7 linked regions of the Homo sapiens genome follow. The protein of the gene in region 4 purifies or fractionates together with the protein of the main gene of each other region. This does not show direct contact. Each region holds a gene or a part of one and is shown on either strand. Other genes may lie near its edges. The genes, in order: HDAC2, MRPL45, PKMYT1, DPF2, HNRNPAB, SMARCE1 and TPI1.

Region 1 (3,777 bases), on a different chromosome or scaffold from region 4:
TTACAGGCGCGCACCACCACACCCAGCTAATTTTCTGTACTTTTTTAATAGAGACAGGGTTTTGCCATGTTGGCCAGGCTGGTTTCGAACTCCTGACCTCAGGTAATCCACTCACCTCCGCCTCCCAAAGTGCTGGGATTACAGGCGTGAGCCACCACACCTGGCCAGGATCATAAGCTTAATAGAACTCATTATTATGTGGGTTTTAAATCAATCCTGTTATGTTGTTTGCCCAAGGGCTACTCATGCCTCTTTTGCATCTAAGTTGGAATCTTCATTGAAAAAAAAAAAATTAAATACTACATGTTCTAGTTACATTGTAGCATTATAACAAATCAAACAAGATATGGCAGAAATGTGTATGAGGTTGTAAATATGAGATGTCTAGCACCTACACTAATTTAGTATAATCATCACTGAAGTCAGTCAATACAAACACTAATGAGAATGAACTTTGGTATCAAGCTTTAAAAGATACTGTTCCAATAATTTTAGGTTGACTTTTGCATTCTACCTTCAAGCCAATTTGTTACTAATCTCTAAAAATAAAATACTTTTAACCTGTACAAGAGAACATTACGTAGAATCAAAAGCTTCACTAATATCTTAACAAAGAAAAAGAGATGTGTATTATAGTCCAGGTTAACTGAAGTACACAAAGACAAGACAAGAGATATGTACATGCCAAGCTAAGGCTAATCAAAGTGTAATCTTGTTTTTGTTTTTTTGAAGCGAGGGAGTAAGGGAGTGAGGTCTCCCTACCAATATGTATTAACCCAAAGTTATCAGGGGAGCAAACTAGGAGTAGAAGAATACCCAAACAGCAGTTTTGCAAACCAATAAGCTTCAGATAGGTTTACTTTTTTCTTAAGTAGCTTTAGTAGTGTTAAAATGACTTTTCAAATCAGTAAATAACTGTAACATATTAGACCAACAGGAAAAATATTCAGATTTAGATCATTCTAAGCTCCTAAAAATACTAATTTACATTTATCAAAGCAAAACTACTTTTTACTTAGAAACGTACATCTCTGCATCTGCTTACTATACTCAGACATGTTATCTGGTCTTATTGACCGTAGAAATTTGATATACTCATCACTGTGATATTTTGTCATTTCTTCGGCAGTGGCTTTATGGGGCCTCTGTGAAGAGAAATAAATGTCAGAACTGTGGAATTACAACCGGTTATATCAGTATTATCAAACAAATATACAAATTCCCCTATCGGTCCCCTCAAAAGAACCAAGTCTACCAGAACAAAATATATAAATTCCAAAACTAACCCAAACTTATATGTGTTTTAGAAAACAGTAATCAATCTCAAAACTAATTCAAACTCCTTTAAAAGCATTACACAGGCATATCAACTATGATTTAATCACTCCTTATTTTAGTGGAAACAGTTCGAGTAAAAAGTCAAATCCATATGTTCATAAACTCTACTTTCTCTCCTTTTCCATGATAAAACATCCAGTGATTTCATCAATGAAATCACTCACTACAAGAGTTTTCAATTCTAAATCTTTGTTCACGACCTCTCGTCCTTTTTTCTATCCTAATCTTCCTTGTTCCGAAGAGCTCAATTTCACGTATGACACAATTCTTCCACAAGACTTCCAGACTGAGTCTTATTCTAACTTCCCCTCTTCTCTAAATGTCTACATGTAACTGAAAATAATTCACATATTCACATATATTGCCTAGCATTAATTGTTTTAAATATTTCTTTTCTCCCCAAATAGCTAATTGTCGTGTCTGTATTTGTTTATACATACCCTCATCTTTATCTACAAAAACATTAAGGCAGCTGTTGCACTTGTGTTATCTGTACTATGCTTGGCCACACTAACACAGTATTCCATATGTATTATATGCCCTGCAAATATTTGTGGGATTAATTTTATGTGTTATTATTTTGTAACAGTCCCAGGTCAACTCTTTTCAGCAGCACAGGCAGATTAACAATTATTGTAAAAAAAAAAAAAAAAAAAAAAATACTTAATATGCTACACTGAGTTGTTGCTATACTGAGTTGTTCTCCAGAACCATGAAAGCCTAGGGTAGGGGGAACTTTTTTAAATGGTTAAAGGAAAAGGAAAAAGAGGGTATAGCTCTCATTCTTATTCATCTCCTAAGAATAAACGAAAAAAGAAGTTTGTTTTCTTCCAGATCTTTTCATCTGCTAAATGCCCTCAAAAGGGGAATAATAGACAAAGTTTCACAGTAGCTAAAAAAAAATAAAAAAGATCAGTGCTGAATATGTATTAAAAGGAATACTCACATATATTTCCATTTTTCTGTATAAGCCATAATTTAACAGCAAGTTATGGGTCATGCGGATTCTATGAGGCTTCATGGGATGACCCTGTCCATAATAATAATTTCCAATATCACCTAAAATAGAAAAGACACAAACTAAACAATACAGACAAGAGACCCTCCATGAACTATTTGAATTTATGTATGTCTATCATTAGAAGGCATTTACTACTTAACAAAATTTATTTAAAACCTTAGCAACTTAGATTTATTTTGCAACTTTCAAACTGTATCAGATGACTAAGACGCTACGCACACTTTTACCAGCTGAAGACTCCATTATTACACATTATATTTATTTGTAGATTAAGGAAAGCAAGCTTTTCTGATTTTTAGCTACCCCCAATTTTTAAAATTTCTGTTCCTTGAAATGATGCCTGCTTTCTGTATTCTCTGGCAAATTCACATGCTTTTAAGTTCTCTGAGTTTTATTGGTATGATTTAAAATTTTTTCAGCAAATACTGCTTTTTGGATGATTTGCTGGCATTTCAGAAATCTCATAATTGGCGTTTTGCATGTTAAAACATACCGTGTCCATATTAAAGCCCATCAGGGAAGTTTTGGTAACTGAAATTTAGGTCCTAAATGAGGTTTTGCTCCACTAAGACACAGCATTACATTTTTCAAGGTAATAAAAATACTGTCTCATTCTTCATGACTAAAAAGTTGTAATTCCTAGCCTGTCTTTTTAAACGGCATCTTATATCACAATGTCTTTAAACTTATGCATAAGATTTAAAAAAGAGAAAATAACAAAATCACAGATTTTCATCAACTAAATTTCAATAAAATTAATACTTTTAGGTAAAGCTCCAGTGTTTCCTATAATAGTAAATAACAAGAAGCCTCTCAAATATATAAAGTCAACCCTCTGTATCTGTGGATTCAATCAACTGCAGACTGAAAATATTTTTAAAAAATAGATGGTGGTGTCTGCTGGAAACACGTAGAGACTTTTTTTCCTTGTAATCTTCCCCTAAATCATACAGTGTAACAACTATTTACACTGCATTTGCATTGTATTAGGTATTATGAGTAATCTAGAGATGACTTAAAGTGTAAGGGGAGATATACATAGGTTATATGCAAATACTATACCAGTTTATTGAAGGAACTTAAACACCCATGAATTTTGCTATCTGTGGAAGTCTTGGAACTAATTCCCCACAGGGTCAGGACAGTCAAGCTATTTTAATGGTTTGAAGTCTATCATTTCAACACGGGTTTATATATTACAATAAAAGCTAGAATAAAAAATGCAATTTATCCACTAAATCTTTCAAAGTCCTCCCTAAATACACCTTTTGTTTGTTTAATGGAAACAACCCCAAAAACTTTTTTGTCCTCTCTCCTACATATTTGATAACAGTACGGGATAAACAATCAGCTTTTACAAAATCCATGCTTCTAATAACATAAATACTTGATTTTGTTGGTATCACACCTCTAATTTT
Region 2 (3,777 bases), on a different chromosome or scaffold from region 4:
AGTAGTAGCAGGCGCCTGTAGTCCCAGCTACTCAGGAGGCTAAGGCAGGAGAATGGCATGAACCCGGGAGGCGGAGGTTGCGGTGAGCTGAGATCACGCCACTGCACTCTAGCCTGAGTGACAGAGCGAGATTCCGTCTCAAAAAAAAACAAAACAAAACAAAAAAAACACAAAACAGACAACAAACCCTAGCTCCTATAGATACAAGATTTTAGGAGGGTTCCTAGCTGATGAGTCTCAAACCTAAGGCCATAGATTAGCTTCTTTCAGATACACACGACTTTTCCCCAGTTTACTATGAGCAGTTTAACTCTTTGTCCCCTTTGAAAAATCTTGCTCTCTAAGCCCAGAATGGGTAAGGGATTAGTTCTAACATGTCTATCTGCTTCCCTTTCATCTCTATTCCTAATAGGAAAGATTCCAAGTCATTTCCTCTACTGTAGGAACAGACTGAGCTGTGGTGACAACTACCATGATGACCATCACTGGCACCTCTGAGTGAACTCTTCCTCCCCACTATCCTGGCATAGAAGTCTTCAGTGGAAATAAACTCCATTTTCCATGAGTTCACTTACTATTTTGCAATAATGTAATACTACTTCTACTATAAACATTTAGAAATGGTGGATTTATGGGCCGGGTGCGGTGGCTCATGCCTGTAATCCCAGCACTTTGGGAGGCCAAGGTGGGCAGATCACGAGGTCAGGAGATCAAGACCATCCTGGCCAACATGGTGAAACCCTGTCCCTACTAAAAATACAAAAATTAGCCAGGTACAGTGGCACACACCTGGAGTCTCAGCTATTCAGGAGGCTGAGGCAGGAGAATCGCTTGAACCTGGGAGGTGGAGGTTGCAGTGAGCCAAGATCGCGCCACTGCACTCCAGCCTGGCAACAGAGCAAGACTCCGTCTCAAAAAAAAAGGAAATGTTGGATAAAATGTAAAACAGACAAATACACTTTTGCTTTTTTTTTTTTTTTTTTTTTTTTTTTGGATTGCACCACTGCCCTCCAGCCTGGGCTACAGAGTGAGATTCTGGGACTACAGGTGCACGCCACCACACCCAGCTTTTTTTGTATTTTTAGTAGAGTTGGGGTTTCACCATGTTGGCCAGGCTGGTCTCGAACTCCTGGACTCAAGTGATCTGCCCGCCTCGGCCTCCCAAAGTACTGGATTATAGGCATGAGCCACCACACCTGACCAAAAAATAATTTGACAGAAACCACCCCTAAGGAAACCCAGACATTGTAATTATTAGTAAAGACACAAATCAATTGTCCTAAATATGTCCAATGAGCTAAAGGAAACCATGGACAAAGAAGTAATGAAATCAGAAAAACAATGTGTGAACACATTGGAGACAGAAATTATACAAGGGAACCAAACAGAAATTCTGGAGCTAAAAAGTACAATAAATTTTAAAATTCACTAGAGGGGTTCAACAGCAGGTTTGAGCAGGCAAAGTATCAGTGAACTTGAGGATAAGGTAATTAAAATTACATAGTCTAAAATGCAAAGAGAAAAAATAATGGAAAAAAAATGAACAAAACCTTGAGGGACCTGTGGGACATCATCAAGTATACCAAATACACATCATAGGAGTCCCAGAAAAAGAAGAAAGAAATGGATAGAAAAAAAATTTGAAGAAATAATGCGGCCAGGCACAATGGCTCATACCTGTAATCCCAGCACTTTGGGAGGCCAAGGTGGGTGGATCACCTGAGGTCAGGAGTTCGAGACCAGCCTGGTCAACAGGGTGAAACCCTATCTTTACTAAAAAATACAAAAATTAGCCAGGTGTGGGTGGCAAGTGCCTGTAATCCCAGCTACTTGGGAGACTGAGGCAGGAGAATCACTTGAACCTGGGAGGCGGAGGCTGCAATGAGCCGAGATCGGGCCACTGCACTCCAGCCTGGGAAACAAGAGTAAAGCTCCATCTCAAAAAATAAAATAAAATAAAAATAACATGCAAAAAAAAAAAAAGAAAGAAAAAGAAATAATGGCTGCAGACATCCCAAATCTGATGAAAGACATTCATATGTACATCCAGGAAGCTCAAAAACCTCCTAGCAAGATAAACTGAAAGAAATTCATACCAAGAAACATTAAAACCAAAGTGTCAAAACCCAAACACAAAGAATGAATCTTGAAAGTGGCAATAGGCTGGGCACAGCAGCTCATGCCTATAATCCCAACACATTGGGAGGCAGAGGCAAGAGGATCACTTGAGGCCAGGAGTTCGAGACCAGCCTGGGCAACAAAGCGAGACCCCTGTCTCTACAAAAAAATTAGAAAAAAAAAAAAAAAATTAGCCAGGTGCTGTGGCACACACCTGTAGTCCCAGCTACTCAGGGGCTGAGGTGGGAAGATCGCTTGAGCCCAGCAGGTTGAGGCTGCAGTGCAGCTATCATTGCACCACTGTGCTCACTCCAGCCTGGCTGAAAAAGTGAGACCCTGACTTTAAAATAAAAAAGAAACAAACAAAGGCTAAAGGGGATCCTTCAGGCTAAAATGAAAGGACACCAGAAAGTAACTCAAAACCACAAGAAAAAAACAAAAAACATGTATGTTTTACTACTATGTAGGAAAAGTAACTACATAGATAAATATAAAAGCCTGTATTACTGTACTTTTGGTTTATAATTCCTCATTTTTCATCCTGTATGATTTAAAAGGCAAATGCATAAAACAATAATTATGAATTGATGTAATGGGCACCCAAGGTATAAAACTGTAATCTGTGATAATGAAGCAGGAGAGACATAATGAAGTGGGAGGGAGAGACATATAGGAGCAGAGCGTTTGTATATTATTGAAACTAAGTTGATATTATTCAAACTAGGTTGAACTAGCCACCACGCCTGGCTGTGTTTCTCTATTTCTGCAAAAACCACTGTTGAGGACAGGCGGTGGCCCATGCCTGTAATCCCAACGCTTTGGGAGGTCAAGGCGGGTGGATCATCTGAGGTCAGGAGTTTGAGACCGGCCTGGCCACTTAATGGGAAAGCACAGTCTCTTCAATAAATGGTGCTAGAAAAATGAATATTCTCATGCAAAAAAAAGCAAAAACATCACATAGTTTTCACTATATACAAAAACTAACTCAAAATGGAGCAAAGACCTAAATGTGAGAGCTAAAACTATAAAAATCTTAGAGAAAAAGGAAGGGGAAATACTTCATGACACTGGATTTGGCAATGATTTCTTGAATATGACACCAAAAGAAAAAACTCGATATGGTAACAAAAGAAAAAAACTTGAAAAACTGGATTTCATCAAAATTTAAAACTTTTTTGCATCAAAGGATACTATCAAGAGTGAAAAGACGGCAGGCGCAGTGGCTCACGCCTGTAATCCCAGCACTTTGGGAGGCCGAGGCAGGTGGATCACCCGAGGTCGGGAATTCAAGACCAGCCTGTCCAACATGGTGAAACCCTGTCTCTACTAAAAATACAAAATTAGCCAGGCATGGTGGCGCATGCCTGTAATCTGAGCTACTCAGGAGGCTGAGGCAGGAGAATTGCTTGAACCCAGGAGGCAGAGGTTGCGGTGAGCCGAGATCACGCCATTGCACTCCAGCCTGGGCTTCAAGAGCAAAACTCCATCTCAAAAACTAATAATAATAAAAGAGTGAAAAGACAAACCATAAAATGGGGGGAAATATTAGCACAGCATATATCTGATAAAGGATTAATATCCAAAATATATAAAGAACTCCTATAACTCAACAACAAAATAACCGCCTAATTTAAAAATAGACCTTTCTGGGCTGGGTGC
Region 3 (4,290 bases), on a different chromosome or scaffold from region 4:
TGAGAAGGCCAGCGTTTGGGGGAGGGTTGGCCGGAAGCGTACTCCTCCCACCCAGTTAAACAGATAAAGAGCCCCTCGGTGAGGGAAGGAACAATCCCTAGCCCGACTTGCTCCGCGAGGGCCCCTGCTAATCACTTTAGGGGATCATCCCAGCGTCCTCAGCTGTTTTTTTTTTTCCAGGAGAGGAGACTAATCCGAAGCTCAGAAAGGCTCAGTGCATTCCCAAGGTCGTTCAGCCAGGAGAGCGCTGAAGGGATCTGAGCTGAGAGCAAGTCTCAAACTCAGAGAATGGAGGAGCTGCCCCGGAAGTGGCTGCTCGAGGCTGCAGTGAACTATGATCCTGCGGCCAATCGCGGTGGCTCACGCCTGTAATCCCAGCCTTCTGGGAGGCCGAGGCGGGCGGATCGCTTGAGGTCAGAAGTTCGACACTAGCTTGGCCAACATGGTAAAACACCGTCTCTACAAAAAAATGCAAAAATTAGTTGGGTGTGGTGGCGCGCGCCTGTGGTCCCAGCTACTCAGGAGGCTGAGGTGGGAGGAACGCTTGAGCGGGGGAGGCGGAAGTTACAGTGAGTCGAGATCGCCCCACTGCACTCCAGCCTGGACAACAGAATGAGACCCTGTCTAAAAATAAAATACATGAGCCGAGTGCGGTGGCGCGCGCCTGTGATCTCACATACTCGGCAGGCTGAGGTTGGGAGAACCGCCTGAACCTGGGGACTGCACCACTGCATTCCAGCCTTGGTGACAGTGAGACCCTGTCTAAAAAAAAAAAAAAAAGTATCTGAGGCCTGTTGGCAGGGAAGCTGCAGGCAGGCGAGGTCAGGCCAAGCAGAGTCCTGCCTATCTGGAGAGCTTCCTGGAAGAGGCGGCTTTTTCTGGCTCCCGAAGCCGTGCGCTAGGGGTTGGGGGTCGTGCGTCTGGCCTCCCACCGCGACCCTGGTTCAGAACACGGCCGGAGTGAGAAGGGGGGTGCCGGGACCCAGGAGGCCGTAGGGACTTCCTGGTCCTACCCGGAGTAACCCTGGGGCTACGCCTGCTCCGAGCACCGGGATGGCGGTCCCTTTTATGGACCCAAACACTACGCCAGCCCAGCGAGGGCGGTGGGTGTCGGGTGCGAGGCCTGGAGGGCAGTGGGCGTCCCAGGGACTGGGCGGCTGAAGCCCCGCGCAGCGACTCAGAACCAGGCCGCCACCCACGCCCCGGGCCAGCGCGGAGAATCCTGTGCGCCTGCGCAGTGAGCGGCGGGGCGGCTCGGCGGCGCGCACGCAGCACGAGGGGCGGAGCCTCGGAGCCCGGGCACCCCTGACGGGCTGCACTGGGGAGGGGGAGGAGCCTCGAGGCCGGTTTGGAATTTTTGGCGCGAGCAGCTCCGCGCGCGTTCACGGGCCGTTCCCCCTCACGGGAGTCCTCCGCCCGGGCGTCCGGAACAGTCGACGGCAGACTCCGGCCCGCTGAGCCACCCGAGGGGTCCCGTGGCCTCCGCGGACCCGGAATCTGGGCCCTCGCGGACCCGCGCCCCGCCCAGTCGCCCCAGGTGAGCCCAGACCCCGCCGTGAGGGGCCTCGGCGTGGCCACCTCGCCGCTCCCCTCCGCCTCGCCAGGTCTGCGTTACCCCTGCCCCTCAGGCCTCCCCGGCGGCCCGCTCGCGTCCCCTCAGGCCCGCCCCCGCGAGCCCCTGCCTCCCGTCCTCCCCAATTCCTGGTTCCCTTGCCTCGAGCCCCTTCCCAGCGGCGGTCCCGCCCTACTCGCCCCTCCCGGAGACCCCGCCTGCTGTCCATCAACCCCGCGCCGCCGCCCTCCCCGTGACAGTCCTTCCTCCGTGACAGCCCCTGCCCCGGGACAGCCTCTCTTCTTCTGCAACAGCCCCTCTTCCCTCGTGACAGCCCGTCCACTGCTCTGTTCGCCAGGGCTTCCCCACACCCACGGAGTGAAGTCAGCCGCGGCCCTGCCTGGGAGGAACTTACCGTCTACCGGGAAAGGTGGCCAGCAGATGTGTCGGGCCTGGTGAGAGGGTGAGGCGAGACGGCCCGATCGCCCAGGGCCCCGGAAGCTGCGGAGGTCACCCCCGCCTGGCCTTAGCTCAGGGACACCCTGGATTCACGTGGGAGCCCCTGCTCCTGCCTCCCCCGTCCCACCACTGAGGCTGTTGGGCCAGGCCAGTCATGCTAGAACGTAAGTCGTAGGGCAGGGACGGTGGGAGAACTGGGTTAAGATGCACAGGCCCAGGTCCCCGAGTGTGCCAGGGTTGGGCCTGGAGGCTGTGCTTGTGACCAGTGACCTCCAGGATCCCAACACCCTGGCTCCTGACTTGGAGAAACCCTGGGCTGGGACTCTGAGGTAGTTAGAGTCAGAGGAAGAGTCTCCACAAGATGGAGGGCAGCCTGCCAGCCAGGCCCAGGTAGCATCGCTCCCCTCACCCCTGTACTCCCTCAGGTACTGGAGACTGCTCTTTTTAATTTTTTATTTACTATTATGTATATTTTTTTGAGATGGAGTTTTGCTCTTGTCGCCCAGTTGGAGTGCAATGCCGCAATCTCGGCTCACCGCAACTTCCACCTCCTGGGTTCAAGCATTTCTCCTGCCTCAGCCTCTGAGTAGCTGGGACTACAGGCATGCACCAGCACGCCCGGCAAAAATTTGTATCTTTAGTAGAGATGGGGTTTCACCATGTAGGCCAGGCTGGTCTCGAAGTCTTGACCTCAAGTGATCCACCCACCTTGCCTCCCGAAGTGCTGGGATTACAGGCGTGAGCCACCACACCCAGCCGCTCTATTGTTTTTTATAATACTTTGGTGCACCAGCCTCACCAACATGGTGAAACCACATCTCTACTAAAAATATAAAAATTATTCTAGTGTGTTGGCACACGCCTGTAATCCCAGCTACTCAGGAGGCTGAGGCAAGAGAATTACTTGAACCTGGGAGTCGGAGGCTGCAGTGGGCCGAGATCATACCACTGCACTCCAGCCTGGGCAACAGAGTGAGACCCTGTCTCAAAAACAAACAAACAAACAATACCTTGGGGCATAAAGTGTTCCACGGTCCAATCCAATTAAATTTTTTTTTTTTTTTGAGACAGAGTCTCGCTCTGTTGCCCAGGCTGGAGTGCAGTGGCATGATCTTGGCTCACTGTAATCTCTGCCTCCCAGGTTCAAGCAATTCCCCTGCCTCAGCCTCCCGAGTAGCTGGGACTACAGGCATGCACCACCACACCCAGCTAATTTTTGTATTTTTAGTAGAGATGGGGTTTCACCATGTTGGCCAGGCTGGACTCGAACTCCTCACCTCAGGTGATTTACTCACCTCAGCCTCCTAAAATGCTGGGATTACAGGCATGAGCCACTGTGCCTGGCCAGATCCAATTAATTTTGAGCTCCTTTGACAGGGTGGCTTTTGAGGTCAGTGAGGTTTGTTCTGACAGCAGGCAGGCTCTTCCTAGCTAGCTCTTTCTCCACTTCTCTGTGGTAAACTAGCTGGCCTATGGTTCAGCTGGTTGCCCTAATGCGGGTACCAGTCTCTTCTTAATGGCGCACCACCAAAACTTCCACTGATTTTGACAGCCCCTTTAAACTTGAACTTCCCTACGCACTGTTTCAAATCAAGCCAATTTTCAGGGGGTTGGTGGGTGGGGAGAGCTCTATTTATGACCTACGTCTACCCCTAGGCTAAATCTCTGTCTGAGCCATGCTGTGGAACTGGGGGCAGGACAGCGGGGCACCTCTCTGAGTGCTGCTATTGCTTTAGGAGCAGGTCGCTGGGTTGGGCAGGAGCCTCTGGCCTTCTTGGTTGCCCTCTCCCAGTGTGGAGCCTCCTTCCTACAAATGAGCTGGGGCTCCATGTTCCCAGCCTGCCGGGCCTGAGATATAGCCTCTATTCTATGCTTGGGGGCAGGTGGAAGAAAGGAGCCCCTGGCCTGTCTGCCACACTCAGCTGGAATTTAGCCTCTGCCATGTGGAGCTGGGAGGGTTGAGAAGTGCTGAGAACCTGGCCCTCCTGGGCAAACACCCTAACCCTTGACGGGGAGCTGGGGGAGAGGGAGCCCTTCTTCTTGGCCACACCTGCCCCCAGTGCTAGGCGGGGGGAGAGGGGTGCTGGAGGTGGGAGGGCAGGAGTGTCATGGCTCAGGTGCCAACAGGCTTGCCATTATTCCCAGGCCTTGGCAGGTTTTCTTGTGTAAACCTTTGTTTGCTGTGTGCCCTGGGCACCATGCCCAGAGGCTTTCAGTGCTTGCTTTTGAATAATCGTCATCAGTTGTGCTGTTTCACTGGGGCAGGGGTCCACGGAGCT
Region 4 (3,777 bases):
GGGACCACGTCACAGAGGAGGTTCTGGGTGGCCTTGGCCAGTCTCATCATAGGGGAGCTTTTGGATGCACATATTTCTACCCATGCTAACCCTCCTGTCCACTCAGCGGATCCTAGAACCAGATGACTTCCTGGATGACCTCGATGATGAAGACTATGAAGAAGATACTCCCAAGCGTCGGGGAAAGGGGAAATCCAAGGTGAGGGGCCAGCGTGCTGCCTGCATCTTGGGACAGGGTGGCCTAGGGAATTCCTTATTTTATTTCAAGTGAGATTAGCGGCCACTTCCAAAAGAGTCTAACTCCTCAGGCCCAGCTACCAAAATAAGGGTGTCTCTTTGCTCTTCTTGGCAGGGTAAGGGTGTGGGCAGTGCCCGTAAGAAGCTGGATGCTTCCATCCTGGAGGACCGGGATAAGCCCTATGCCTGTGACAGTGAGTGCCTCACAAGTGGGTGGGTAGACCTTGCCTTGGACCCAGCTCCTGCTCTGGATATGAGAGGAGGGAGGGTTGTGTTTTTGCCCAGAGTATTAAAACAAACCTGGGCTCTTGTCCTGCCTGCTGACTGCTTCCGTCTGAGACCCCTGGGAGGCCTGGGTCCCTGCTATATGACGGGTGGGACCTGCATGCTCTGGGAAAGATTTCTGCCATCCTCTGGGGTAGGGTTGCTTGTGGGGGCCACAGCAGGCAGGGTTGGCCTCTCAACAGATGGCCTGCAGGTCTCCTGGCCTCAGTTAAGCCAGGGCCCCAGGGGTCTGACACTGAGTTTTTCAACGTCTGTTCTCTTTTTCTTTCTGTCTGCCTTGCCCCACTTCTGTCCCTCCACCCTGGGAGCACCATCGCCGCTGGGGTTTCTCTCTCGTTTGCTCTGCTTTCCTGCTGCTGCTGCTCCTGTCTCAAGTGTATCAAGGCCTTCTTCTCATGACTTTTCTTTCTGTCTTTCAGATAGTTTCAAACAAAAGCATACCTCGAAAGCGCCCCAGAGAGGTAGCTCTCTCAACTTTTCAGACTTGTGGTTTTCCTTTCCCTTTTTCCCTCTTCCCTTGTTCCTCCTGCCTTTCTCATTTCCTGGGATGCTAGCTTTAAAATCTCTGGAATGGCATGGGGGTAGGAGCAGTGGAATTTCTGCTGTGCTCTACTCCTCAAAGTCCTGAAGGCTGCCTTTACCACTGCTTGTTTCCCACAAACCTGCTCCTAGAGCTGCTCGGCCCAGTGCATGGGGTGGCTTCAGAAGCATTATCAGGAGCCCATTACAATCAGACCCTTCCGCTCCCTCCCCAGACCAGGCAGCTGGTGGTCAGCTCATGTTCCCCACTGCCCCACCACCTCCTCCTGCCATCCTCTCTCCCCACTCCTTTCCTGCTGGCCCCCTTGCCCTTCTTGGTATTACTTCTCAAGATGACAAAATGCCTCATGGGGATCTGCTTTCCTTGCTGATTGGCAGGCCTGGACAGGGCAATTACATGGGAGTGTGCTTGAATTTCTTTGGGGACCAACTGCCCAACTGGCTTCATTGATAGGCTATCCCCAAGAAACCCATCCCCTGCTTGTTTACCCACATTCAGGGGAGATGGGCTCCATGGTGTGTGGGGTAGCATGAGCCTCCCACATTTACTGAGGGGTAAAAAAGTTTGGAGTCTTATCCACTTTTCCCCCTTCCTGCCACCCCAAAGATATAGGAATATCCTTCCCTTTCCTGACCTGGAGCGTCCCAGACTGTTAGTATATCCCAGAGCAACTAACTGGTGATGGGGCAAGGGCTAAGCCCCCCAAAAGTCAACATGGAAGAGCAGTGGTGGCCATGGGGTTGGAGTTCAGGAGGGAAAAGAGCCCCAGAAGCTAGAGAGCCCCACGGCCTGATGCTCCTGGCTGAGGGGAAGTGGCCGTCACTCAAGGCCTGTCCCAGAGTGGAGCTGCTAGGGGAAGGGATGGTTGCCCTCTGCCTCAGGTGGAGCCCCCACAGCTTGCAGGGATGGGGACATGGCACTCTTGTATCCTAACACCTTTCTCTGCAATCTTCTTCCCACTCAGTTTGTGGAAAACGTTACAAGAACCGACCAGGCCTCAGTTACCACTATGCCCACTCCCACTTGGCTGAGGAGGAGGGCGAGGACAAGGAAGACTCTCAACCACCCACTCCTGTTTCCCAGAGGTCTGAGGAGCAGAAATGTAAGCTGAGGTGTCAGAAGTGGTGGGCAAGCAGAAGTTGGCCTGGTTATGAAAACCACTCCTTGCATGGGTGTTGAGTGGCTCAGGGACCCCCATGGGTGTCATCAAAACTCTTTCTCTCTGTAGCCAAAAAGGGTCCTGATGGATTGGCCTTGCCCAACAACTACTGTGACTTCTGCCTGGGGGACTCAAAGATTAACAAGAAGACGGGACAACCCGAGGAGCTGGTGTCCTGTTCTGACTGTGGCCGCTCAGGTACTGCTTCCCGTGAAGGCTGCTGCTTTGCCCAGTCCCCAAGGGGCTCTTGGCTTGCTGGCCTCTAGGGCTGTCATAACCAGCCCACCTCGCTTTTCCTAACCAAGAGAAGATGTAGCCACAGGCAGGAGCTCCTCTCTTCCCCCCGCATTTCCGACTGTCTGTCTCACTCACTTCCCCCACTACAGGGCATCCATCTTGCCTCCAATTTACCCCCGTGATGATGGCGGCAGTGAAGACATACCGCTGGCAGTGCATCGAGTGCAAATGTTGCAATATCTGCGGCACCTCCGAGAATGACGTGTGTATCCCCGCCCCCTCCTCAGCATGGCTCCTTCTGGGCTTTTACTGCTGTTTGCACAGTTCCCTCTAAAGTGAGCTTTCTTTTAAAAAGGGAGCAGGATCCCTCCCACATGCCACACGCCCCTCCCTAGCATCTCAGTCAGAACTCTGATTTGTTGCCAGATATATATTGAGTGCTGATTTTATGTCAGACACTGTTCTAGTCACTAAAGATGCTAAAGACAAACAAGGTCCCTGCCTCATGAGATTTACATTCTTACAGGAACAACAATAAGCAAGGATGTAAATGAGATTTGTATAATGTGCCATGAAAAAAACGAAATCAGTACTGTGGCAGAGAATAATTGCATAAGTGATTTATTTTGATGGTCAGGTATGGCTCTTCTGGGAGGGTGATGCTGGTGTTGAAATTTTGGTGATACCAAGGAGCCAGTCAAGATTTGGAGGTAGAGGAATCCCAGGAAAGGAGCAGCCAGCGCCAAGGCCTTATGTTGGACAAGCCAGATGACAGGGCATGGGAGAGTATGGTGGGCAATGAGATGAGAGAGGCAAGCACTGCCAGATCTCTGGGGCCTCGGGTTTTATTCTAGGTACAACAGGACACTGTTGAAGGGTTTTACTCGGGAAGTGACATGGTTATTTATGTATTTATTTATTTACTTTTTTTTTTTGAGATGGAGTCTTGCTCTGTCGCCCAGGCTGGAGTACAGTGGCACAATCTCAGCTCACTGCAACCTCTGCCTCCTGGGTTCAAGTGATTCTCCTGCCTCAGCCTCCCAAGTAGCTGGGATTACAGACACGTGCCACCACACCCGGCTAATTTTGTATTTTTAGTAGAGATGGGGTTTCTCCATGTTTGCCAGGCTGGTATCGAACTCCTGACCTCCGGTGATCCGCCTGCCTCAGCCTCCCAAAGTGCTGGGATTATAGGCGTGAGCCACTGCACCCAGCTATTTATTTATTCTTTATGTATTTATTTATTTATTTTGAGACAGAGTCTCTCTGTCATCCAGGCTGGAGTGCAGTGACGCGATCTTAGCTCACTAAAACCTTT
Region 5 (4,172 bases), on a different chromosome or scaffold from region 4:
AAGCTAGAGGTGACAGTTCTAGATTCTTGAGTCCAGGGGTATGAAGCCTGCAGTTTAAGGTCTCAGAAGATCCTAGAACTTCTGCAACTCACTGATTCTCCTCTGTGGTGAAGTTTTTCTTATTCCAGAGCCTTTCTACCTCCTTCTACAACCAAGTCTTTGTCCACTTCCATCCACTTTGAGCACTTTTTTTTTTTTTTTTTTTTTTTTGCTTTGAGACAGAGTCTTGCTTTGTTGTCCAGGCTGGGGTGCGGTAACACAATCATGGCTCACTGCAACCTTGACCTCATGGGCGGACCGGATCCTCCCATCTCAGCCTCTCGAGTAGCTGGGACCACAGGCATGTACCACCATGCCTGGCTCATATGTTTTTTTAAAGCCTGGTCTCACCATGTTGCCTGGGCTCAAGCCATCCTCTGCCTTGGCCTTGTAAAGTGTTGGGATTACAGGCATGAACTGCCTCACTTGGTCTTCTGGGCACCTCTTTAAGTTAACCCTAAACCCAGGCAAAAATCCTTCCAAAGATCTCCCAGGGTCCTGGCCAGCTTAAATCCAGGGTCAGTTGTGCTTTCAAATGAGTGGATTCATGTGCAGGGAGGTGTAGCTCTTCCCCTCCTGAACTCTGGTCAGGGAAAGGGTAGTTCAGGCTTCAAGTTGGCAGTTGGGAGTTGAGGGTGCGGCCTGCAGTGGCAGGGTGTGGCAGGTTCTGTTTCTGAGCAGGAGTTGGCAGCCAGATAAGGTGGGACAGGTGGAACTCCTGGAAGTCTCTATCCTGGCTGGGAGTTTGGAAAGAGTGGATTAGGATAGTCTTAAATTTTCTATAAAATGACAGTCTTTGAGGCAGTTAGGGGAAGCAGTGGTTATTACTCCAGTGGACAGTGATAGAGGCCTTTTTCTCTATGTGCCATAATGGGAAATGGGTGGGAAGAGCCTCTAAGGCAGAGTTTAAGTGAAACTACTGGTAGTGAGTCTTAGGAGTAAGTATATTTAGTTGGTTATATTCAGTATTTTTAATTTAGTAGGATAGAATATATCAGATTGCATTATTTTAATTTGCCAATTAAAAGTATGACTGGGACACTGTAAAATGTACTATTTTTAATGGGTGTGCATGTCAGGATTTTCTTTAGAAATACACTGGTCTGGTCTAATTTATTTAAGCAGGAGCACTTTAAAGTATCCCACCCTACCCCATTCCACCCCCAGTGGACAGAAAGGAAATTGACTGACTTGAGGGGATGCAGACATCTGGGTTATTCCAACAGACCAGTGGTTAGGAGGAGGGGGTGGGTAGCATTATGGCCTCGGGCAGGCCCCCCCACCCTGAGCCTCTGAAAGCTGACTTTATCTGTAAGAGGGAGGTCAGGCTCGCCTTCTCAATAGCGTGTATTTGGATGAGATGAGTTTCTTCTGTAAAGAGAAAAAGATGTTAAAACCTCATTGTCTAAGGCCCCTCATCTGAGAAGTCTTGTCTGACCCTCTAGCCCAGCAGGACCAAGGTGTGGTGCCTGGTCCCAGCCTGTCCTCTGCTCCCCTGGGCTGCAGTTGGCCCAGTTGCCTGCCTCCATTAGATACGGAGTTGCTCTGGGGCTGAGATGCCCATCTCAAGTGCATTCTGTCGGAAGGGTTCTCTGCTGGAAGGCCTTTGGTTTTAGTTGGGATTCCATGAGCTTTAGCCCAAAGGTGGCCTCCCATACTAGCATATTTTGTTTCTCAGCAAATGGACCTGATCCACCATTTGATGTTTGTCGCAGTGAAGGTGTTTGGGCAGTCACTGCCCTGAGTTTGTCCTACTGGCCTGACCACTGTCCTCTTGACTTTTAGTGTGAGATCAAGGTGGCCCAGCCCAAAGAAGTCTATCAGCAGCAGCAGTATGGCTCTGGGGGCCGTGGAAACCGCAACCGAGGGAACCGAGGCAGCGGAGGTGGTGGTGGAGGTGGAGGTGAGTGGAACGTGGATGAAGATAGGTCCTGTTTCCCTGCCTACATGGAGCCTTCCAAGCCTGTCTTGGGGCTCCCTCTGGTGCTGTGCAGCAGGGGTGGGCAGATTGTGTGAGGTTGGGGACGAACAGGAATAGGAACGGCTCTGGGTCAGGGCTGTATGCTTGAGGCTGTTGCCTGCTGCTGCCCCTTGGAATGGCTTGGGTGCCCAGGGCAGAGAGAGCATTTGTGTTACACTCTGGGGGAGGGGATGTGATGGGTGTCTTGGCTTTGTGGATGTCCTGAGTCTGGTACACCTGTGAGCAGGTAGGCAGAAGGGTGGGTAGGGCAGAGCTGTGCCAGGCATTTATCCCCTTCCATCCCAGGCCCCTCTGACTCCAAAGCCTGAACTGCATCTTTTTAAAGGCTAAGCTGCCAAGGAGAGTGGGAGTGATCAGAGAGTGACTGAGTGAGTGAGCTGCCTTGTTTGCCCCAAGTAAAGTTAGCATCCTGGTCTCTGATCCTCTGCTTGGGTCTCTCAGATGCAGGGTTGGGCCCAGGGCCCTTATACACCAGAACAGCAGCCCCTTGGCTTCTGCCTGAGTTGCCACAGTAACCCTGCCACCCCAAAGGGCAGGATTTCCTCCATCCTAGCTCCTGCGTATGCTAAATGGTCCACGGGCCCCTGTGCCCTGCTCCCCCCACAGGTCAGAGTCAGAGTTGGAATCAGGGCTACGGCAACTACTGGAACCAGGGCTACGGCTACCAGCAGGGCTACGGGCCTGGCTATGGCGGCTACGACTACTCGCCCTATGGCTATTACGGCTACGGCCCCGGCTACGACTACAGTAAGTAGGAGAGAGGGAGGCCCCATCCGCTCACCCCTCGTCCCCAGGGGAGGCAGGACAGTGTAGGAGCCACTGGCAGCAGGGGCTTTGGAGTCAGACAGGCCTGGCTCAGCCATGGGAGCTACTTGATTTTGAGCCTTAGACTTCGGGGTCTTAATAACATGAGGAAGGCAGTCTCTGCTGTCACGGCTGGTGAGGGTCCTGGGAAGATGCATATCAAGCGCGTGGCACAGGGCAAATGCTTGTAAATAGTAGCTGCTATGGTTGTTCTCGTCCCTAGGTCAGGGTAGTACAAACTACGGCAAGAGCCAGCGACGTGGTGGCCATCAGAATAACTACAAGCCATACTGAGGCGGCAGCAGGAGCGACCAACTGATCGCACACATGCTTTGTTTGGATATGGAGTGAACACAATTATGTACCAAATTTAACTTGGCAAACTTTCTATTGCCTGTCCCATGTGCATCTTATTTAAAATTTCCCCCATGGAAATCACTCTCCTGTTGACTATTTCCAGAGCTCTAGGTGTTTAGGCAGCGTGTGGTGTCTGAGAGGCCATAGCGCCATCATGGGCTGATTTTTATTACCAGGTCCCCCAGAAGCAGGTGGGAGGCTCTGCTTCCTGCTGCCGCTCTGCAGCCTGGACCTGTGGACCCTGGTTGTAAAGAGTAAATTGTATCTTAGGAAACCAGTGTCACCTTTTTTTCACCTTTTAATTTTATATTATTTGCGTCATACATTTCCTGTAACGGAAGTGTTAATTTTACTGTACTTTTTGGTACCTTTTGGGAATCTAATGTATTGTAAGGTATTTTACACGTGTCCTGATTTTGCCACAACCTGGATATTGAAGCTATCCAAGCTTTTGAAATAAAATTTAAAAACCCCCAAGCCTGGGTGAGTGTGGGATATGCTGTGTGAGACCTCTTGCTCAGGGTCGAGGGAGGCGGGGGGGGGGTGCCAGGTGCCCTGGACTTGGGGCTTTCTCCTGCAGCAGGCTCTTCCAGCTGCAGGCCCAGTTGTGGGGGTATCCTTTAAGGACTGCCCTGCCTAGGGCTGAGCCCCCCTTCAAAGAAAGGAATGAGAGGCCTATGGGGAGTGAGGATGGGGCAGTGATGAGGGCTTACATCCCCAGCAGGCATGTCCCCTCCTGGGACACCTTGGAACACCAACCTTCTTGGCTGATGAATGAAAAAATGGGATTCTTTACACACTAGGGCAGTGCCAGGGCCGTCTGAATTGGGGCACAATAGTGCTCCTCCTGGCTGGTGAAGAAAAGCCTGCTCTGGCAGGGGATGTTTATTGGCTGGATTGGAGCCCAACTCCAGGTCTGGTATTTAGGGCATAAGACTAGGTGGTTACAAGAGGCAAGGGTGGGTTGGGGTTCCACGTGGATACAGCCCCA
Region 6 (3,777 bases), on a different chromosome or scaffold from region 4:
GCAAACTGAAAAGAGAGTCCCTTAAAAAATTCTAATGCGCCTTTCTTCTATTCGTCCAAATATTTTCTTCACTGAAAATAGCTATCACTGCAAATTCAGAAATGTTCAAAAGAAAATGACTTTAAGCACATAATTTTTAAATGTTTTACTTAGCAGTTTATTGCCAATGCTTTGACAACCTGGCTGCAAGAACAAATAAAATATTACACAGTAACCCATACATTGAAAATATATGGTTATATATCAACCGTCTCAAGTTCAGGACATTACCTGGTACCCTCTTATTCTGCTCAATTACCATTACACATACAGTCAACACTTGATTATCTGCAGCAGGATCTGAACCCTTAACACTTACCATTCTCACACTGTCTACAGGGGCCTTAACCTATTAGCACTAGGAATGTACTCCCAACACCACCACAAAAACAACTTCCCAGGTTCAAAAACAAAAACAATTAGTGAAATAACAAACCACCTTACCTCCTTTGCCAGGCTAGAGATTTTATTTCTCTTAAGGTTCTGTCTGTTACCTAGTGGTTTTCTTGTAAAGGGGAATGAGAAGTGTGAATTAAAAGTCACACATTGTTTTGTCCTGAGTCCTAATCACAGTGTAAAAGCAAACAAGTTTATCAGGAACAGAGAAGTGGCAGATATCGGGCCTGATTACGTTATTTTTGAGGTCTTATATCAAGAAGCTCCATTCCATTAAAAATGTTCAGTTTTATGGGAAAGACAGAGGAAAAGGAAAGATGTGATGTACAGGAAAAGAGAGACAGAAGAAAAGGAGGCGGAGGGAAGACTGAAAAATATTTTTTAAAAAGGTAAAGCAAAAATAGGTGAAAGAAAAAATAAAAAAAGAAGGAAAGAGAAAGATAAAGTGATCAGTTTTTCCTGTGGCTTAAAGTCTAGGTGAGATTCCAGACAGCCTCTGGTAGACCACCCAGATAACACCCATCTAAAAGTATCTATTTCTGAACTTTTTAGTCTCCTGTTAATATACATGACTGCATTTGATTAAAGACCCAGAATAAGAAAAATCATTGCTATTTCAGACAATTTGCAAATTTTCAGGAGATCTCTGATATTGACTCTCCCTGCTAGGCTGGAGAAATGAAGTGTTGGCTTTATTTTAATTATCGAAAGACAGGATTGGCAAATCCTTATAGGAAAACTAAAGTAACATTTTGTTCGCTTCCCCTTCTGTTGTTGCTATGATAAAACCCCAGAGATACTCCTCCACTCTGGGCTGGGACCCCAATCATAACCTTATTTTTCATTTGAGGGCTCAGGGATTAGCATGTTTGTGTCCTTTTCCACTATGATCAAGAAATGTTTCCTCTTCCTACAAGGGTCTCTCTCCATCCCTATAACTCTACTTCTTCAAAGCATTTCGCCTTGGAAGCAGTATTTCCTCTCTTTCCATTCCTCCCATGCATTCTTGTCACACCTCATGCTAGTGCCCAGGTAGACAGACACTGTTTTTGGCCAGCAGTGGGTAAGAGAGTGAGATGGCCAGGGGCATGGAAACTGTCAAAAGTGGTAGGATGGGCAGCCAATACAGGGAAACCTGTATCAGGGTCTATAGTTCTTTCAAGGGGAAAGAGAATTCCTATAAGACTAACCTTATGGATTCAGAGGAACAGACACACACAAGTCTGCTTCTTCACACATAAAGTTACTAGAAAGTATTTCCAACTCATATCCAACACAAACCTTCAGAATTCCATGAAATGGATTACAAATAAAGTTGGAATTGTGCCCATAACTGAGGTGGTAAGACCACTGTCAAAATTTTTTGAAATTAAAGAGGTAAAGAATTCTAAAATGCCTATGCTTCCGAGCTTTAATATGAATTAAAACACTTTAAAAACACAGTAGTATTTGCTCTTTGATATTTTTCAAAGAATCACATTTTATATTAATGGAATTGCTATTTCCCCTCCTTTCTCCCAAAGAAAGGTACACAAATCATCTGTATATTGAGACCAGTCAACTTACAACAACAACAACAAAAACCCAAACTAAAAAAACACCCCAAAACAATAATAAAGTTAAATTCCAGATGGTTTTCAGGATAGTAAAGATTTATATCATTACACACCTCCAATTTATTTAACGTCTCAGACAGACATCTTTCTACAATGTCTTAAACATTTCTTTAAAAAAAGCTGAACATACTTTAGACCCTTTCTGGATAAGATTCAATTAGAAACAACCACTGTTTTGCTGTGCTGTAACCCTCTGTCAGATGTCAAAATCTGTTGTTGACTCTTTCAACGGCCTAGGGGCTATGCTTTTGGAGAATGTGTTTCCATTTTTGAACTGTTTCTTTCCTTGCTACTATCAGGAAACCCACCTCTAGCAGCAACTCTCTTTCCAATTTTCTGCTTTCAATTTCCAATGGGGAGGCGGGTAGAACTGTGCTTACAGAAGAGCAAGGTCCTAGGAAATCTCCTATGAATAAAGTTCATGGTTTTGTGAAATTTATCTTGGTTACTCAGTTTTTTGTTGTTGTTTCTTTTGCAATTCTCAGCTGTTTCTCTAGCAAGAACTTATTTAAGAGCTTTCTTCTGGGGCAGAATTTCTATTAATGTACAGAAATAGGCTGTTTTTAAAGACATTTTTGTCTCAATGTGTTTTCACACCTGTACTTAAGAGAATGTTAATCATCATCTGAATGAAGAACTGACTAGGAGTGAATTCCATCTTGTAGCTATCATAAGCACTCCAAAAGGTCTCGACATGCTATACAAAGTATTTACTGTCTGAGAACTACCCAAGTATACTGGAGTCATCAGGGAAACCCAATGTTCTCTACAGCCTACCACAAGCTACTGGACAGGGCTTCACAGATTCGTTCCTTGAAAACCACTAATGCAATCTGCGCACAACAATACCATACAGGAGCTTCCCCTCACCCCCAAAAGTAATGCATAACTAGGGTCATAGTAAAATCAAAATGCTTTTATTATGGTCAAAATCAGAGCCATTGAGTCCTAACAGCTTAAACTAGATATAGAAAGCAGGGCAAGTAGTGTAAAACCTCCACATTTTCTAGGCCCTTCTTCATATAGCAGTTTGATTATACTTCAATTTGGTGTTAAGAGGACAATAATACAAAGTAAATGTCCACAAAGGACCAAAACACCAAATTTTCCATGTCCAACAACTCTCTATAATTAATCTACTATGTAGCTAGTGTCCACGCCAAATGTTCAGTTCTTAACATTCGCCAAGAAGGAATGGGAAGAAACAGATGAGTGACTTCAGATAGGGAGTACACTTTCTCTTCCTAGTCTCCATCGAACAATCTCACTTTTTTAACTGAGAATCCCCCACAGCTACATCCAAGTTAAGAGCAAAATACTTACACAAAACCAAAAGACAAATTACTGTAATATTATAGTTATCATTTCTATTCCATTAACATAGATAATCAAGAGGTGACTGTATAGAGCTATTAAATGCAATCATTCTTGTTTACTGCCCGTGAAAAAATTGCTGCATTAACATTAAGATCCATGATTGATTCCGTTCATTGTTTAAACTGAAATGTTCTTTATCATTTGAAAACCTTGCCATCCATTACACTTGTGAAACAACATGTTTAGGCCAGGGAAAAACATGTATTGATGCACATAAAAATTGTATGCATTGTGAAATGCATACATACACACACTTTGTCAGAATTCTTTTTCAGATACCATGAAATATGCATGGCACATAAAACTTGATATGCTTATGAAGTACATATTATGCAGAAACAATGAAAAA
Region 7 (4,245 bases), on a different chromosome or scaffold from region 4:
GCCCCCGGAATCCACAGTGCTCTGCTTCTCTGTGTCGCCCCGCCCAGCCCCCTGGTGTGGAGGGAGGGGTCTCGTTTGTGCGCGTGGGTGTAGCTTTGTGCATCCTCTCCCAGTGGAGCGATCACCTGTGCCTCCCCTCCCCCTTTGTTTGCCCCTGTGTGGTTGGTCAAGGAGGGATGTGAGGGAAATAGGGACCCCCCGACTTGCCCTCCTGCCTCAGTCTTTCCCCCACCCTGTCTCTTCCTTGTCCTTCTCTGGAAAATGCCAAAATACACGATGTGAATAAAAGTACAACGGCTAAATTGTGTCCTGTTTGATACCTTGGGGGAGAGGCTTACCTTCCTGGGGTTAGCAGGAGGGCGCTTAAGAAAACTCCTAACTCTGGCCGCCTCCCTGCCAAAGTCAAGTCTCCACTTTTCACTGGTTCTAGAGCTCTAGGAAAATTGGGGTTGGGTGGGGAGGTGGAGTAGAGTGACTAAATGCCGACACAAAGCCAAGGAAAGATGGAGTGAAGAACCCTTCCCTCTCTTTATTCACACAGGAGTGGAGGATTTCCCAAATGTCCCTAACTGGCTAGCTGGCTTCAGGCTGGGACTCAGTCCCTGCAGTTCCTGCCAGGCCTTGCCAGCCGGGGCGAGGGTTGGGATGATCCTGGCGGCCTATGCCTGTGTGGGCTGCCCCTCCCGCTGTGAACCCTGCATTTGTCCCGCAAGTTTTCACTCAGGTAGACTCCCTGGGTACAAGGGTGCCTGCTCAGCAGTCGGGCATGAGCTGCTCCGATGGGCGAAGGAGGTTGTCTATCCCACAGTTGGAGAGGGGCCCTCTCTGCCCCAGTGGGCGATCTGGGCTACGGCCAAGTTGCCACCAGCTAGTTCCGCTTGAAAACCACTTCTGGCCCCGTGGGGGACTCAAGTCGCCAAGCGAGGGTTCCCCTGAGCGCCGGAGCTCACAGGTCTCGCCTTGTCCCGAAAGCCCCGCAATCGAGGCGGAGGCGACCGAGCCCCCGACTCTCCTAGAACGTTGCCACAAGAAGGGGGAACGTCGGAACAGTGCATCATCGGGCGGCGGCCGGGGCGGCGGCAGGAGGGCGGGCGGGGGGCAGGGCTCCGGGGGACTGGGCGGGCCATGGCGGAGGACGGCGAGGAGGCGGAGTTCCACTTCGCGGCGCTCTATATAAGTGGGCAGTGGCCGCGACTGCGCGCAGACACTGACCTTCAGCGCCTCGGCTCCAGCGCCATGGCGCCCTCCAGGAAGTTCTTCGTTGGGGGAAACTGGAAGATGAACGGGCGGAAGCAGAGTCTGGGGGAGCTCATCGGCACTCTGAACGCGGCCAAGGTGCCGGCCGACACCGGTAAGCCCTCGCCGAGGAGGGGTCTGGCCGGGCCGGGGCCGGGGCCGGGGCAGGAGTGGCAGCGCCCTCTCCCGAGGCCCCGAGGCCCCGAGGCCGGTATCCGCGCGGACCTGATGCAGGGCTGTGGGACGAGGGCCGCTGGGGTCCGGGCAGGGGCCTCGCAGCCGCAGCCCCGTCGGTGCGTCGAGGGGGCAGGGCGGAGCACATGATGCCCCTTGGACTATGGGGCAGGTAAGGACGTTTTGGGTCTCCTGGAGGAAGGTGGCCCCGGGGCGCGCACTGGGGCTGTGCCCGCCAGGCGACGGGGTTAGGAGCGGAGCCCGAGGCTCTGCGGGAGACCGGGGGAGGCTGGGCCGCGTGGGCTTCCCGCTCCCTGCGCCCTGGCCTCCCGCGCCGTGCGCCGCCGCACGTAGCCCCAGACTCCTCCCCTTCCTCGCCGGCGTCCGCGTCCCCGCGCCGAGCTGCTCGGGCTCCCTGAGCCCCAGATCTGACCCCTTCCCTTCGGCAACCTGAACGACTCCCGCCTTCCACGGAAGGGACCGAGCCCGTGCCAAACAGGCTGAGCGATTTGGGAGTGAGGAGCCATCCTACCGCTTTCCCCAACCTGGAAACAGCAAAGCGCAAGGCCTCTGAGTCAGTTAGGTCTCTGCCACCCACGGGCAAAGGATGCTCTCCTCCATCCTCCTTCCTCCCTCCACCGAAATCGGAGAGCCGCGGGCCTGATCCAAAGAGGCATCCCCTTCTCGTTCATTCCCCAGAGGCCTCAATACAAACCCCAGGAGTTGGCCCCTCTCCTTTTGCTACAAATCCTTGCCTTGCAAAGGGGAGGTGAGGATGGGCTATTTTAGAAGGGAAGCAGGGTTGCTCCCTGGAGAATGCTGAGTCTGTGAGGTGCCTATGCCGAGAATAGCTCGAGGAAATTGGAGCCCCAGCTGTTAAAAGAGCAGAGGGCAGGGTGAGGGCCGTGGCCTCTCAGGGGTATCTGGAAGGCTCTTCGAGTTGAGTGCAGACCCAGCCTGGGCTGGAAAATGGACAAAGGTCATCTTGCTGGGGTGAAAAGGGGGAGAGCAGAACCAAGAAGAAGAGGGTGAGGGCTGGGGGGCTCCAGGGCACTGGTTAGGAATTGTGGGGAATGAAGGCTTTCTTTAGTCTCATCCCCCTGTGGTACCATCTTGTCCTCAGAGGTGGTTTGTGCTCCCCCTACTGCCTATATCGACTTCGCCCGGCAGAAGCTAGATCCCAAGATTGCTGTGGCTGCGCAGAACTGCTACAAAGTGACTAATGGGGCTTTTACTGGGGAGATCAGGTGAGATCGAGGTGGAGAGGGGTGTGTGGGACCCTTCCCTCACTTTCCTCGTTGAGGGGAAAGCCACAGGGTGGGCTCCCTGCTGAACCTTGGCTTCATCTCTTCCTTTAGCCCTGGCATGATCAAAGACTGCGGAGCCACGTGGGTGGTCCTGGGGCACTCAGAGAGAAGGCATGTCTTTGGGGAGTCAGATGAGGTTAGTAGCCAAGAGAGAAGATAAGGGATGTCTTTTTCCAAGAAGGATGTCTCACCAAGTCTGTTTCTCAACAGCTGATTGGGCAGAAAGTGGCCCATGCTCTGGCAGAGGGACTCGGAGTAATCGCCTGCATTGGGGAGAAGCTAGATGAAAGGGAAGCTGGCATCACTGAGAAGGTTGTTTTCGAGCAGACAAAGGTCATCGCAGGTATCTCTGGAGAAAGGGACCTTTGAGCCTATCCAGGGCCACAGAGACTCAGAGGGTAGGGTCAGGCCCTGGAGCCTGTCTTGGTCCCCATGCTGATCCAGAAAAGGAAAAAGGGGAGGGGGAGTGACAATCTTTGCTTGGGGCCTATGACTTCTCCAGCCCCAAGGTAGATGCCACCTGGAAATCCCCCAATGTCCACTAGGGGGCAGTAGGCCACCGTTCTTCGTACTCCGGAGAACCTGGCTGGAGAGCTCTTTCTTGTTCACCCTTCCCTCCATCTGTATCTCTGCCCTGCAGATAACGTGAAGGACTGGAGCAAGGTCGTCCTGGCCTATGAGCCTGTGTGGGCCATTGGTACTGGCAAGACTGCAACACCCCAACAGGTAACCGGGCCCAGGAGCCCTGCCCTCATCCCAGCCTGCCTCAATAGGTTTGGACAGACACAGCCCACATGGGGCAACCCCTTATTTCAAAGACACAGAGACCTTGAACCCAGAGACAGTGACTTGTCCAAGGGCATCCAGTCCAGGGCCTGGCTTGGATCAGAGCCCTGGTACTCTGACTCAGTCAGAAACCACACTAAGTGTCCACTGGTGCCAGTGATTTTTCCTCTTAGAGAGGCAGAAAAGGTCTTACTTAGGCCAGCTTCTTGTTCTAGGCCCAGGAAGTACACGAGAAGCTCCGAGGATGGCTGAAGTCCAACGTCTCTGATGCGGTGGCTCAGAGCACCCGTATCATTTATGGAGGTGAGTGGCTTTGGTTCCCGGCTGAGGTGGAGTGGGCTGAGGACTAGACTGAGCCCTCGGACATGGAGGTGGGGATGGGGCAGACTCATCCCATTCTTGACCAAGCCCTTGTTCTGCTCCCTTCCCAGGCTCTGTGACTGGGGCAACCTGCAAGGAGCTGGCCAGCCAGCCTGATGTGGATGGCTTCCTTGTGGGTGGTGCTTCCCTCAAGCCCGAATTCGTGGACATCATCAATGCCAAACAATGAGCCCCATCCATCTTCCCTACCCTTCCTGCCAAGCCAGGGACTAAGCAGCCCAGAAGCCCAGTAACTGCCCTTTCCCTGCATATGCTTCTGATGGTGTCATCTGCTCCTTCCTGTGGCCTCATCCAAACTGTATCTTCCTTTACTGTTTATATCTTCACCCTGTAATGGTTGGGACCAGGCCAATCCCTTCTC

The links.
Region 1: the proteins of DPF2 (region 4) and HDAC2 purify together in Homo sapiens (affinity purification with mass spectrometry; 2 studies listed by BioGRID, with this or other methods). This does not show direct contact.
Region 2: the proteins of DPF2 (region 4) and MRPL45 purify together in Homo sapiens (affinity purification with mass spectrometry, with the first as the bait; one large-scale study listed by BioGRID). This does not show direct contact.
Region 3: the proteins of DPF2 (region 4) and PKMYT1 purify together in Homo sapiens (affinity purification with mass spectrometry, with the first as the bait; one large-scale study listed by BioGRID). This does not show direct contact.
Region 5: the proteins of DPF2 (region 4) and HNRNPAB purify together in Homo sapiens (affinity purification with mass spectrometry, with the first as the bait; one large-scale study listed by BioGRID). This does not show direct contact.
Region 6: the proteins of DPF2 (region 4) and SMARCE1 purify together in Homo sapiens (affinity purification with mass spectrometry; 11 studies listed by BioGRID and IntAct, with this or other methods). This does not show direct contact.
Region 7: the proteins of DPF2 (region 4) and TPI1 purify together in Homo sapiens (affinity purification with mass spectrometry, with the first as the bait; one large-scale study listed by BioGRID). This does not show direct contact.

What each region holds. Positions count from the first base shown.
Region 1 is NC_000006.12:113,957,622-113,961,398, forward strand, and holds part of HDAC2 (histone deacetylase 2), read right to left. Parts: intron 2,398-3,777; coding exon 2,285-2,397; intron 1,146-2,284; coding exon 1,028-1,145; intron 1-1,027. UniProt on the Homo sapiens protein: Histone deacetylase that catalyzes the deacetylation of lysine residues on the N-terminal part of the core histones (H2A, H2B, H3 and H4).
Region 2 is NC_000017.11:38,313,953-38,317,729, reverse strand, and holds part of MRPL45 (large ribosomal subunit protein mL45), read right to left. Parts: intron 1-3,777.
Region 3 is NC_000016.10:2,977,533-2,981,822, reverse strand, and holds the start of PKMYT1 (membrane-associated tyrosine- and threonine-specific cdc2-inhibitory kinase), read left to right. Parts: upstream 1-1,376; 5' UTR 1,377-1,537; exon of another isoform or gene 1,538-1,604; intron 1,605-1,829; exon of another isoform or gene 1,830-1,910; 5' UTR 1,911-2,165; coding exon 2,166-2,175; exon of another isoform or gene 2,176-4,290. UniProt on the Homo sapiens protein: Acts as a negative regulator of entry into mitosis (G2 to M transition) by phosphorylation of the CDK1 kinase specifically when CDK1 is complexed to cyclins. Mediates phosphorylation of CDK1 predominantly on 'Thr-14'. Also involved in Golgi fragmentation.
Region 4 is NC_000011.10:65,343,639-65,347,415, forward strand, and holds part of DPF2 (zinc finger protein ubi-d4), read left to right. Parts: intron 1-106; coding exon 107-199; intron 200-352; coding exon 353-431; intron 432-941; coding exon of another isoform or gene 942-983; intron 984-2,027; coding exon 2,028-2,165; intron 2,166-2,291; coding exon 2,292-2,420; intron 2,421-2,608; coding exon 2,609-2,721; intron 2,722-3,777. UniProt on the Homo sapiens protein: Plays an active role in transcriptional regulation by binding modified histones H3 and H4. Is a negative regulator of myeloid differentiation of hematopoietic progenitor cells. Might also have a role in the development and maturation of lymphoid cells.
Region 5 is NC_000005.10:178,207,506-178,211,677, forward strand, and holds the end of HNRNPAB (heterogeneous nuclear ribonucleoprotein A/B), read left to right. Parts: exon of another isoform or gene 1-776; intron 777-965; exon of another isoform or gene 966-1,410; intron 1,411-1,824; coding exon 1,825-1,942; intron 1,943-2,626; coding exon 2,627-2,767; intron 2,768-3,047; coding exon 3,048-3,118; 3' UTR 3,119-3,658; downstream 3,659-4,172. UniProt on the Homo sapiens protein: Binds single-stranded RNA. Has a high affinity for G-rich and U-rich regions of hnRNA. Also binds to APOB mRNA transcripts around the RNA editing site.
Region 6 is NC_000017.11:40,637,622-40,641,398, forward strand, and holds part of SMARCE1 (SWI/SNF-related matrix-associated actin-dependent regulator of chromatin subfamily E member 1), read right to left. Parts: intron 1-3,777. UniProt on the Homo sapiens protein: Involved in transcriptional activation and repression of select genes by chromatin remodeling (alteration of DNA-nucleosome topology).
Region 7 is NC_000012.12:6,866,331-6,870,575, forward strand, and holds the start of TPI1 (triosephosphate isomerase), read left to right. Parts: upstream 1-1,236; coding exon 1,237-1,351; intron 1,352-1,774; exon of another isoform or gene 1,775-2,179; intron 2,180-2,533; coding exon 2,534-2,657; intron 2,658-2,768; coding exon 2,769-2,853; intron 2,854-2,927; coding exon 2,928-3,060; intron 3,061-3,357; coding exon 3,358-3,443; intron 3,444-3,718; coding exon 3,719-3,806; intron 3,807-3,934; coding exon 3,935-4,053; 3' UTR 4,054-4,245. UniProt on the Homo sapiens protein: Triosephosphate isomerase is an extremely efficient metabolic enzyme that catalyzes the interconversion between dihydroxyacetone phosphate (DHAP) and D-glyceraldehyde-3-phosphate (G3P) in glycolysis and gluconeogenesis.